Linked DNA regions of Homo sapiens: region 2 is linked to region 1. Evidence: fine-mapped expression QTL. Tissue or cell type: monocytes after LPS. Region 1 holds a variant in brackets; the other region holds the start of a gene. All regions are shown on one strand. Distances are between the middles of the regions.

Evidence for each region. PIP is the estimated chance that this variant, and not a neighbour inherited with it, causes the effect.
Region 2: it holds the start of MYO5C, and the variant in region 1 is fine-mapped to the expression of MYO5C in monocytes after LPS (Quach 2016, PIP 0.95).

The regions. Positions count from the first base shown.
Region 1 is chr15:52,232,904-52,238,104 of GRCh38, reverse strand. MYO5C (myosin VC) reads left to right here. Exons shown (of 41, transcript NM_018728.4): 22 at 459-623; 23 at 2,342-2,435. LOC105370820 (a long non-coding RNA gene) reads right to left here. Exons shown (of 4, transcript XR_007064638.1): 4 at 779-2,227. Among named protein-coding and RNA genes, the nearest start is that of MIR1266, 42 kb to the left of the region's middle. The variant C/G (reference allele first, on the strand shown) is at 1,999.
Region 2 is chr15:52,292,852-52,297,981 of GRCh38, reverse strand. It overlaps MYO5C (myosin VC), which reads left to right and starts at 2,178. Exons shown (of 41, transcript NM_018728.4): 1 at 2,178-2,372. The coding sequence starts at 2,346. It overlaps LOC105370819 (a long non-coding RNA gene), which reads right to left and starts at 3,098. Exons shown (of 4, transcript XR_932250.3): 1 at 2,771-3,098. RefSeq lists a silencer at 2,355-2,514 and enhancers at 3,956-4,125, 4,999-5,048.

The sequences.
Region 1 (5,201 bases):
CTTCCCTCCATGCCTGTGTCTGTGTCTTAATCCCCTTTTCTTCTAAGGACGCCAATCTTATTGGACTAGGGCTCACCCTGAGGGCTGGTTTTACCTTAATTCCCTCTCTAAAGACCCTGTCTTCAAAACAGCGATATTCCTAAATTCAGGGGTTAGGACTTCAACAAATGAATTTTGGCGGGGGGCACAGTTCATAACACTAGGGTTGTCCTGGTTTGCCAGAATTGGAAACTTCCCACATTAAAATAGCCACCAGTTTGGGAAGATGTGTACCCAGCAAGATCTGCCATACTGTTTCACCACAAAGAAGATGCTAACAAATGTCAGTGCAGTGATAAGTGTGATCAGCATAAAGCAACCTCTCAAATTTGGATGCTGTGTCAAAGGCTATGAGAATTAAATGGAACAGCATCTTTGTTTGGATTAACCTCTAAACATCTGAATTTTCTTTTCTCTAGAACAAAGAAAACCATGGGCTGGTGGAGAAGCTGACTAGCCTGGCTGCTCTTCGAGCTGGGGATGTGGAAAAGATTCAGAAGCTGGAAGCAGAACTAGAAAAAGCAGCCACTCACAGGCGAAATTACGAGGAGAAGGGGAAGAGATACAGGGATGCTGTGGAAGAGGTCAGCTGCGGGCGTGTGAGACGGGATGGAAATATGCGGACTCTCTGTGAAAAAGATGAGCGCTGCCAGCTTTTCCTATGAAGTGGATTTCTGCAGAGCAAATCAGATTTTGCTATCAACTTCCATTACCAAAGGGAGCCTACCTTTTAGGAAAGGCGAGATCAGAGGATTAGAGTCTAGGGGAAGGGAGGAGGTTAATAATGAGAGAAATGCAACATAGGTTTTCTCTTTCTTTCAAGTTTTGCAAAATGATGACAGGCCCAAAGAGCCCTGGCTGGCTGCCTCCCTTTCTTCCAGGATGACCTTGGTCTCCTATCACTTGTCCTTAAGGTCTATGCCCTGGAAATGTCTTCCCCTGAACAGCGATGCAAAGCTAGGGTAGGGTTTTCATCTCTGGTGTAGTGAAAAGAGCAGTCAGCATAAAAACCAGATGCCCTAGATTCAAATCTTGCCTTTGTCTGGCTGGGCAGCCTTGGCTAAAGTCCCTTACCCTCTCTGAATTTTAGTTTCCTCATATAAAAAAATGAGAATAACAAAAAAGGACTGACAGAATTGTTGTGAGAATAAAATCATCAGATGAAATACGTTAGCCAAATGCCTACCATAATGAATTTTAGTTTCCTCCTATATAAAATGAGAATAACAAAAAGAGATTGACAGAATTGTTGTGAGAATAAAATGGTCAGATGAAATAATGTAGCCAAATGCCTATGGTGAGTCCCTGCAAAAGTGTGAGCTAGTGTGTTCTAAGAAGGTGATCTTTATTATCATCCACTCTGCTGCATTTTGTTTTTTTTTTGTTTTTTTAGACGGAGTCTTGCTCTGTCATCCGGGCTGGAGTGCGGTGGCGCAATCTCGGCTCACTGCAACCTCCACCTCCCGGGTTCAAGCAATTCTCCTTCCTCAGCCTCCCGAGTAGCTGGGATTACAGGCATGCGCCATGACGCCCGGCTAATTTTTTGTATTTTTGGTAGAGGTGGGGTTTCACCATGTTGGCCAAGCTGGTCTCGAACTCCTGACCTCCAGTGATCCACCCCCGCTTGGCCTCCCAAAATGCAGGGATTACAGGTGTGAGCCACCGTGCCCAGCCTCTGCTGCATTTTCAAAGTCCTAGCACCCAGGGTTGGTGGCTTGGAGGCCCAGAAGACATCCCTTTGCCCTCCCCATGACCCGGTGCTGGGTGCACCAACACTGCTGCCGTGGGCATCGCCAGCTGCCAGTCACCATCAGTCAGCACCACGGGGCCTGCTGCCAGCCCAGCAGACACTTTACCAGGAGAAGTTGAAATGATAGGAATCCTGCTGTGCTCACACATCCTTCCTGAGTCATAACAGTTGCAAAGTGTGAATCCCCTTTACGCCATCAACTGTGTAAT[C/G]ATAGCATATTCGACATATAAAGTCCCCTGGCTATTGAGAAGCTCGACAAAAGGAAGAAGTATGTCCTTGACATTGAGGAGCCCTTGAATGTGTCCTTTCTCCTTGTTTCAGTCATTGCTGGCCAGGTCGGGAATAGTGTCACCTTTGAAGTCACGTTGAGCTCTTGCATGTGAAACAAATGGCAGCGTCTTACAGTGGCTGGTGCTCGCTGTTATCTATAGACAGGAGCTGAGAAAAAATAAACTAATTTAAGAATATACATCTTTTTGTGAAGAAAGGCAATGGTGACAACTTGAAGTGAGGTTTTCAAAAAAGTTTGTTTTTCCCCCTTCCCTCTGCTAGAAATTGGCAAAGCTTCAGAAGCATAATTCAGAACTGGAAACACAGAAAGAACAAATACAGCTGAAGCTTCAAGAGAAGACTGAAGAGTTAAAAGGTAAAGCTTGGGGGGCACAAATCCAGACATTCACTGATTTAGTCACTCAGTAAACAATACTGGGGTTGACCAGTTTTAGAACCAGGGGTCTCTGGTGTACACTTAGTTTAGTGAGGCAATTTTTGCTCACAAGGAATAGCCATATTTAAGTCGTGGTAACTTTGCCCTACAGATTCGTCTGTTTTATTTCTGTCTTTTGTCAGACAGCACAGCATTTCCTCTCTGTGCCTCAGAACCTCCTGGGCCCTTTGCAAAGTACAGATGGTCGGACCATGAGCCCGGAGCTTTTGCATCAGGAAATGGGTGTGTGTGTGTCTGTGTGTGCGCATTCGTGTGTGGTGGTGTCAGAGGTGGTTCAGACATCCGTAATTTTAGAAAACCTTTACGGTAATCCTGATGTACAGTCAGAGTAATGCTGCAGTCATGTTTGGTGCTCACCAAAGATTTGCAGAAAAAATTCTGATCTGTCGGAGTTACTTAGCCTAAGTGACACCCATGTCCTCTGCTACTGTCCTGCCCTGAATGAAGAAGGGCAGACCCTGGAACCAGTAGGTATCACTTCCTTTAGGGCTGTGGAACAGCTACGCTTAGCCTAGCTCTACACATTTGAGCTTTTCAGCTCAAGTTCAACTTGACAATACTTGTTGTACCCCAGAAAAGGCAACAGGCAACAGAGCCTGGTGATCCCTGACCAGATAGTTTAAATCACCACTCTCAGTGATCTTGCCTAGGGATCTCTTCCTTGAGCTCCAACGTGGGGGCAGCAGGAACACGAGGGTTCAGGCCTGGGGATTCTACACGCACCTCTAGCCCAGCAAATGGTGGATATGATGGGGCCCAGAGGAGTGCAGAGCCCTGGGAGTTCAGGGCGGAGAGTGGGAGGAGCGAATGTTGGTGAAGAGGGAGTAAACAGCCTGACACCAGGGCACTGGGGCAGGAAAGGCTGTGCAGGTGCTGACGAGGAGCAGGCCATGCCCTCCTGTTCTAGGTGCTGCGTGCCCTCCACCCTGTCTCTGTAGGGCTGATGGTGTGGGCACAGAAGCCATGTGAATGTCAGAGATGAACAGGAGCATGTCAGAGGTCCGGGAGTAAACCTTGAACCTGAGTTAGGAAAGGGTTTCCTCATCTCCACCCTTTTTATTACAGCACACTCCTCTTGGGTGGTTGTTTTGGCTTTTTTCCCCCCTAACTTCAAATAGAATTTCCCACAAGGGCATTTAAATTCTCAGGAATATAACCTGAAAATTATGTTTCTGAGACCATGTCATGTTTGGGTGAATAATTTTACATCCTCTTCCAAAAAGTCCATGAAAACTTTCAATGTAATATTTATAAACTGATTATCCTGTGCGCCTCCCCCGACATGGCAAACAGTGTTTTGTGAATAGCACCAACCTTTACCTATGCTTGTGACCTAAGACCCAGGGATGCTATCAAATGCTGTTTCTCCTTTTTGAGATTCTAACTTAACATGGACATAATCCCATTCCTCTTGAGAAGTAAATCACATTCGAGCAGCTTCTTTAGCGCATCTGCAAATGGCCTAAGATGGTAAGCACCAGAATTAAAGCCAATGCTTTTGGTTAATTGAAAATTGAGGTTATATAAAACGTGTTGGCTTCTAAATTAAAGCTTGAGCATTTCCCCCAGTATTTCCTGGCTGCCTTACAACGTTCTGAAGCAGTCATTTTGATTCAGAAACATTTGGCACTATGTTAGACAAACTATTAAACTGTTGGCTAAAAAAAAAAAGTAATTTGGAGAATTGCTATCGACGGTGCACCCCGAGGACTCCTTCTGGGGTGGGGCTCAGAGGTGAGGTAGAGCTCAAGGATGAGATATCAGCTTAGTGCAAATAGGGACATCACCATTTGAGGGGCTGCACTGCCATTCTCCCATTTTGATGGCCCCTGTGGCATATGGGTGTGTTGGGAATGTGGGGTTGTCATAGCCATGGAACGTCCTGCCCTTCGGCCTGCAGACTTTGTGTTTGCGACTCTTGTATTTCAGTGTTAACAGCTGCCTTTTTTGTACTTCCTCTTTCCCAGATAGAGACAGACACTTGATTATTTTCTTGGTTATCACAGATGAGTGGTTCTCAGCTTTGCTGCCACCTCACCCCCCAGACATTTGCCAATGTCTGGAAACAATTTGGGTTGTCACAACTGGAGCAGAGGTGCTACTGGCTTCTAGAGGGTAGAAGCCAGGGTTGCTGCTCAGAATCCTGCAATGCGTGGGACAGCCCCTCTCCACAGCAAAGAATTATCCAGCCCAAAGTAGCAATAGTGCCAAGACCGAGAAACCTTGTCACAAATGGATCATTTTCTTCCCAAAGGGTTTCTATTTATTTATTTATTTTTTTTTTTTTTTAATTTTTTTTTTTTTTTTTTTGAGACGGAGTCTCGCTCTGTCGCCCAGGCTGGAGTGCAGTGGCGGGATCTCGGCTCACTGCAAGCTCCACCTCCCGGGTTCACGCCATTCTCCTGCCTCAGCCTCCCAAGTAGCTGGGACTACAGGCGCCCGCCACTACGCCCGGCTAATTTTTTGTATTTTTAGTAGAGACGGGGTTTCACCGTTTTAGCCGGGATGGTCTTGATCTCCTGACCTCGTGATCCGCCCGCCTCGGCCTCCCAAAGTGCTGGGATTACAGGCGTGAGCCACCGCGCCCGGCCTCTATTTATTTTTAATAATATTCATTGTCTCAAAGCCAATATCTACTTTAATAAATAACAGACCAACAAAAGTACTATAAATGAAACTATTTAT
Region 2 (5,130 bases), 60 kb before region 1:
GGGCAATAATATAAATAATTTTGTATATAAATAAATGCAAAATTAAATTTACCATGATCCTCTCTTTGTGGCATTTATCATTATTGATCCATGCCAGGCCTCTCTTTATATTTTTTGATCCCCTTTTTGAAATCTCCGATTCCATTTCTCTCCCTCATAGGTATCCACTCTTGCATATTTAATGAATGACTTTGTAATTTATCCTCCTTACCTCTATTCACACATACTTGTACCCATGAACAATATTCAGTATTGCAGTTTTTGTGAGTTTTTAAATATTAAAGACTTGGGCTAGACATCTATTCAACATTGTTTTTTATTTCTGAGTCAAGTAGATCATGTCTATTCCTACTAACAGCTGTAGAGTTTTACATGTATATACTATTTCTTTTTTTATTTTTCTCTGCTGTCTGCCATGTATATACTATTTTATTTATTCCCCTATTGATATTTAGATGCTTCCAACTCTTTGATAAATAACTATGTTGTGATGAACATCTACTTAACTGTCTCTTTGGGTGACTGTGAGAATTTTTCTGCCTACATTTATTTTCATAACTATTCTCAAATTGCTCTCCAGGATGGCAGTATATTCCCACCAGTTATGTAAGCAAAAAAAGTTTTTATTTTTTTTATTTATTTTTTTTTTTTTTTTGAGACGGAGTCTCGCTCTGTCGCCCAGGCTGGAGTGCAGTGGCGCAATCTCGGCTCACTGCAGGCTCCGCCCCCTGGGGTTCACGCCATTCTCCTGCCTCAGCCTCCCGAGTAGCTGGGACTACAGGCGCCCGCCACCTCGCCCGGCTAATTTTTTGTATTTTTAGTAGAGACGGGGTTTCACCGTGTTAGCCAGGATGGTCTCGATCTCCTGACCTCGTGATCCGCCCGCCTCGGCCTCCCAAAGTGCTGGGATTACAGGCGTGAGCCACCGCGCCCGGCCAAGTTTTTATTTTCTCACATCCTAGGCAGTATCTGAGATTGTCTAACCTAAATGTTTTTGCCAATATGATGGGTAAAAAGCAATATCTCATTGTTGTTTTCATTTGTATTTATCTGATTACTGCTAAAGTTGACATCTCCTTGTATGCTAACAAGCCATTTAAGTGTCCCCATCTGTGAATTGCCTATTAATTTTTGTCAGTTTTAAAAATTGGATTTCTTTTCTTTAACCGATTAACAATTCTTCTATATGGAAACTACTATAACCCAACATTTTAAAGATATTATCCCTCTTTTATTCCTAATAATTTCCCGGTTTTAAGTTTTAATCGTGAATCCATCTGGAGCTTATTTTTGGATGCAGTGTTTGCCACGGATCTGCTTTTATTGTTTTTCCATATAACGGGCCCATCTAATAAATATTATTTTATTTCCCTATCTGGTCCTTAAGGCTACCGTATAATGTAGGGCCCTGCTGGGGGGCTCCAGCATGTTCCATTACTCACGTATCCGTTCTCACGCAAGTGTCACACTGTTTTAATGACTACTGCTTTGTTATGTCCCTAAATATATGGCAGGACAAATCTCTCCTCTTTGAGAATTGTCTTAGTTATACAGGGCTTTTATTCTATATGAAATATAGAATCATTGTACAATTCTCCAAAAGTTCTGTAGGATTCTGACGCCAATATATTAGGCATATATATTGATTTGGGTAGAAGTGACACCTTGACCATATTAAATATTCCCAGCCAGGAAAATGGCATGTCTCCCGTTTACCTGGGCCTTCTTTTAAGCTCTTTAAGAGAATTTTAAACATTTTCTCCACAAAGGCCAAGGGCATTTTTGCGAGTGTAATCTCTGGATACTTTATATTTTCACTAATATTGTAAATATCTTGTATTGCATAGACAATGCTCATATAAAGGACCATTACTTATTTTTGTATTTGATTTTGAATACGATGACCTTGCTGGACTCTTAACACATTTCTTTGTGTTCAGTACGTTGATTCCCTTGGGTCTTCCATTTAAATGGTCGTATCCTCTGCTCTTTGAGGAGCTAACACTCGGGCCGGGCAGCCTCCGGATGCATCTGTTCCTGCCTGGCAGCGCGCCCCGGGCCCCAACCTTCTCCACCCGCGCTCCCGCCAGGTGCAGCCGCCCGGCCCCGGCCAATGGCAGCGCCGACTAGCCGGGCCAAGCTTGGAGGGACCAATCCCGCCGCTGCCCCCTCCCCTCGCCGCCAACTCGGGAACGGGAACAGGAGGCCGTTGGAAAACTTTGGGCAAGATGGCCCGGCGGTGATTTCCGCGGCGGTCTCTCCTGCGCCCGGCCTCTGCGGCGCAGGCCCAGCCCCCGAGCCTCGCACGTTCGGCAGCCCCGGCCTGGCCCCGGCCCCTCCTGCCCATGGCGGTGGCCGAGCTGTACACGCAGGTAGGAGGGTCCGCTGGGCTCCTGGGAGCGCTGTGGGGGAGCCGGCCCTGCTAACGCTGACTCGACCTGGCGCCCGGGCCACACCTGCCACACCTGCGCACCTGACACGGCAGGGCGGGCGGGCGCGCGCTGGGGGCCGCGGAGGCGCCGCGGAGGGGCCACGGGGACCGGGGACACGAGCGAGCGTCGCCCCTCCAGGGCCCCGGCGTGCTCCGTCCCTGCCCGCGGGTAAGCCCCCTCCTGGCTCCGCTGCGCCTGGGTGCCCTGTGGGTGGGAAGACCCTGTGGGAGGGGCCGCCCCCTCCGCCGCTCCGGCCTCGGGGCCTAGAATCCCCAGTGCCCAGGGGTCGCGCGTGCGTCCCCATCTCCCGGGACTGGAGCGCCTCGGTCCCTTCCTACCACACCACGGGTGGAATCAGAGTTGCCCATGCGGACGTAGGAAGCTGAGACGCCGGCCAGTCTCCTGGCCCCTCCTGGGACCCCCTTGAACGAGCTGGCATAGAAGCTTATGGCCGCAGTGTTCGGGCTGCTTTCTAGAATTCTGTGTCTTCAAAGTGCGTGAACGTGCATGTAGGCTCATCAGAAGCTGAAGCAGCCTGGGTCACAGGCTTGAGGGCACTGCAGTGGCACCAAGCGCTTGGGGAGCCCAGGGGCCACGAGGTGCAGTCGTAGGCTCTTTGCCTAACATCTGTACTGTTAGCAACAGTACAAACACCACAGTTTCTAAAGCGCCTTTCATATACCCTGACTCTGGGAAACACTAGAGCATTCCTCAGAAGCTTCCTTTCTGCTGGCTGGGGCTCCACCTCTTACCTCGGAAGGGCAGCGTTCCCACATATGTCCCAAACCCTCTGAGATGGGCTTGGGTAATTATTTGGATAAAGAGTGTGACAGTGTTAGCACTTTTGAAAAAAAAAATCCATTTGAATAGCCATAAAGCCTGATCCTCCTATACACCAGTTGGGGAAATCTAGAGACCTCAGTATTCAGACGAGTGGAACTAGAATCCATCCATTTCCCCGGACACATGCTCTAGCTTTCTACTTTAAAAGATGCTTTTGCTGTAGATAGAAAAGATAGTTATTTAAAAAATCATGTTTCAATGGTTTAAGCAAACGTTTTTCTTCTACTTTGATTACTTAGTAACAGTCCGGACACAAAGCAACCGAACTGTAGTTTCTCCTCTATTGCATCTCCATTAACTGGAGTTCTAAATGGACAGTGTTTGAATTGCCCTAGTTTTGTTCTAGAATATTTTCACCAGTGAGACTGTGAGCCCTCAGACAGCCAACAGCGCTTCTTCAGCCTTCAGTTTACTGGAAGTGAAAGAAAAGTCTTGGACTAGTCTTCGACGATACTTTGGAGGACAGAGAAAAATGCTGCTGCTGAACCTATTTGAGGTGACAGTATTTCCAGAAGCAGAAACACACAGGTGCAAGCACCCCTATTTTTAGGTGCCTCAAACCTCAGATATTTATTAAATGTCTAGTAAGTACCAGGCACAATGTAAGAAAACTGATAGGAAGGAGTTTAAAGGTACAAGCTTGGAGGGAATGAGAATCTGAGAATCCCAGAGACTGACGCAGCCTGATGGCCATTCCCACTGACCTTGTGTCCACGTAGACACCTGTGTTCCTAGGCTGCCACCTCCCTTCCTGGTGGGCAGTTAGCCCCCATTTTGTCTGTTCTGGAGGTGTGAAGGGGAGGGCCATGGCAGCCAGAGAGCGAGGTCAGGGCTTTATTCCCCAGTGTGGGTTTTGAGTGGGGGCTGGCAGAATCAAGGGTGGTGTGTTAGGACTGTTAGATTTGTTATGTATGCCAGCAGCGCCCTTGGGCTGTGGAGGAGAGAGGCCGGGGTCACGTAGCTGAATTCTCAGGTCATTCCAGCTGTTGGAAAAGAATTAGAGCTGCAGTGTTGGCCATGGAGGGTGGAGGCAGGTGAGGCTGAGAGGCTGGACTGGGGAGTGGGGTGGGGGTTGAAGGGACCAGCCAAGGATGACATTTGAGGTTAGAGTCTGTATGAGAGACAGCAGGGTGGTGCCCTTGAGTGAATTAAGGATGTGGCATGAGGAGGAAATATTTCTTAAGAAAGTCATCAGGCAAGTTCTGTATTTGCAGGGGTTGAAGGGGTGAGGGGGCTTCCAAGGGAAGGTGCCTTGCAGGGTGGGAGGTGTCAGAGGGAGGGGATGGGCCCTGCCGAGGGTCTTCTGCCCAGAGGTGGTCACTGAAGCCAACAAGACACTGAGGGTCTCACCAAGGTGGGAGAAGGCAGACAGAGAAGAGGGTGAGGGACAGGCCAGCGGGGAATGCATCTGTGCAAGGAGTGAGAGGAAGCAGAAGGGCTGAGATGGAGCCATCCAGAGGAGGAGCTAACAGGGGAGCTGGAAGCCACCCTGTGGGAACAGGGAAGAGGGAACTCCAGGAGAAGTCTTGGTGAGGGGAGCAATCGCTGCCAGGTGAGGTGTAAAATCATCCATCTCTTTTGAAAAGCTACAGGTGCCATGCCTTAGAAATGTTCAGAGCAGCAGTTCCCCTATTTGAAATCTCTCTTAAGAAGAGCCGGTCTGGCATTCTCTGCTCTACCACCTCTAGAGGCTCCCATTGCTTTCAGACTCACTGACCAGCCACGAGGTCCTGCCTCTCTCCCTGCCTTCCTGCTCTTACCTGGCTCATGCTCTGCCAGACTCCTTGCCATTCCCTCAATGCCTTGCTTGCACGTTGCCACTGCGTGCCTTGGCACACGAACTCCACCTGTCTGA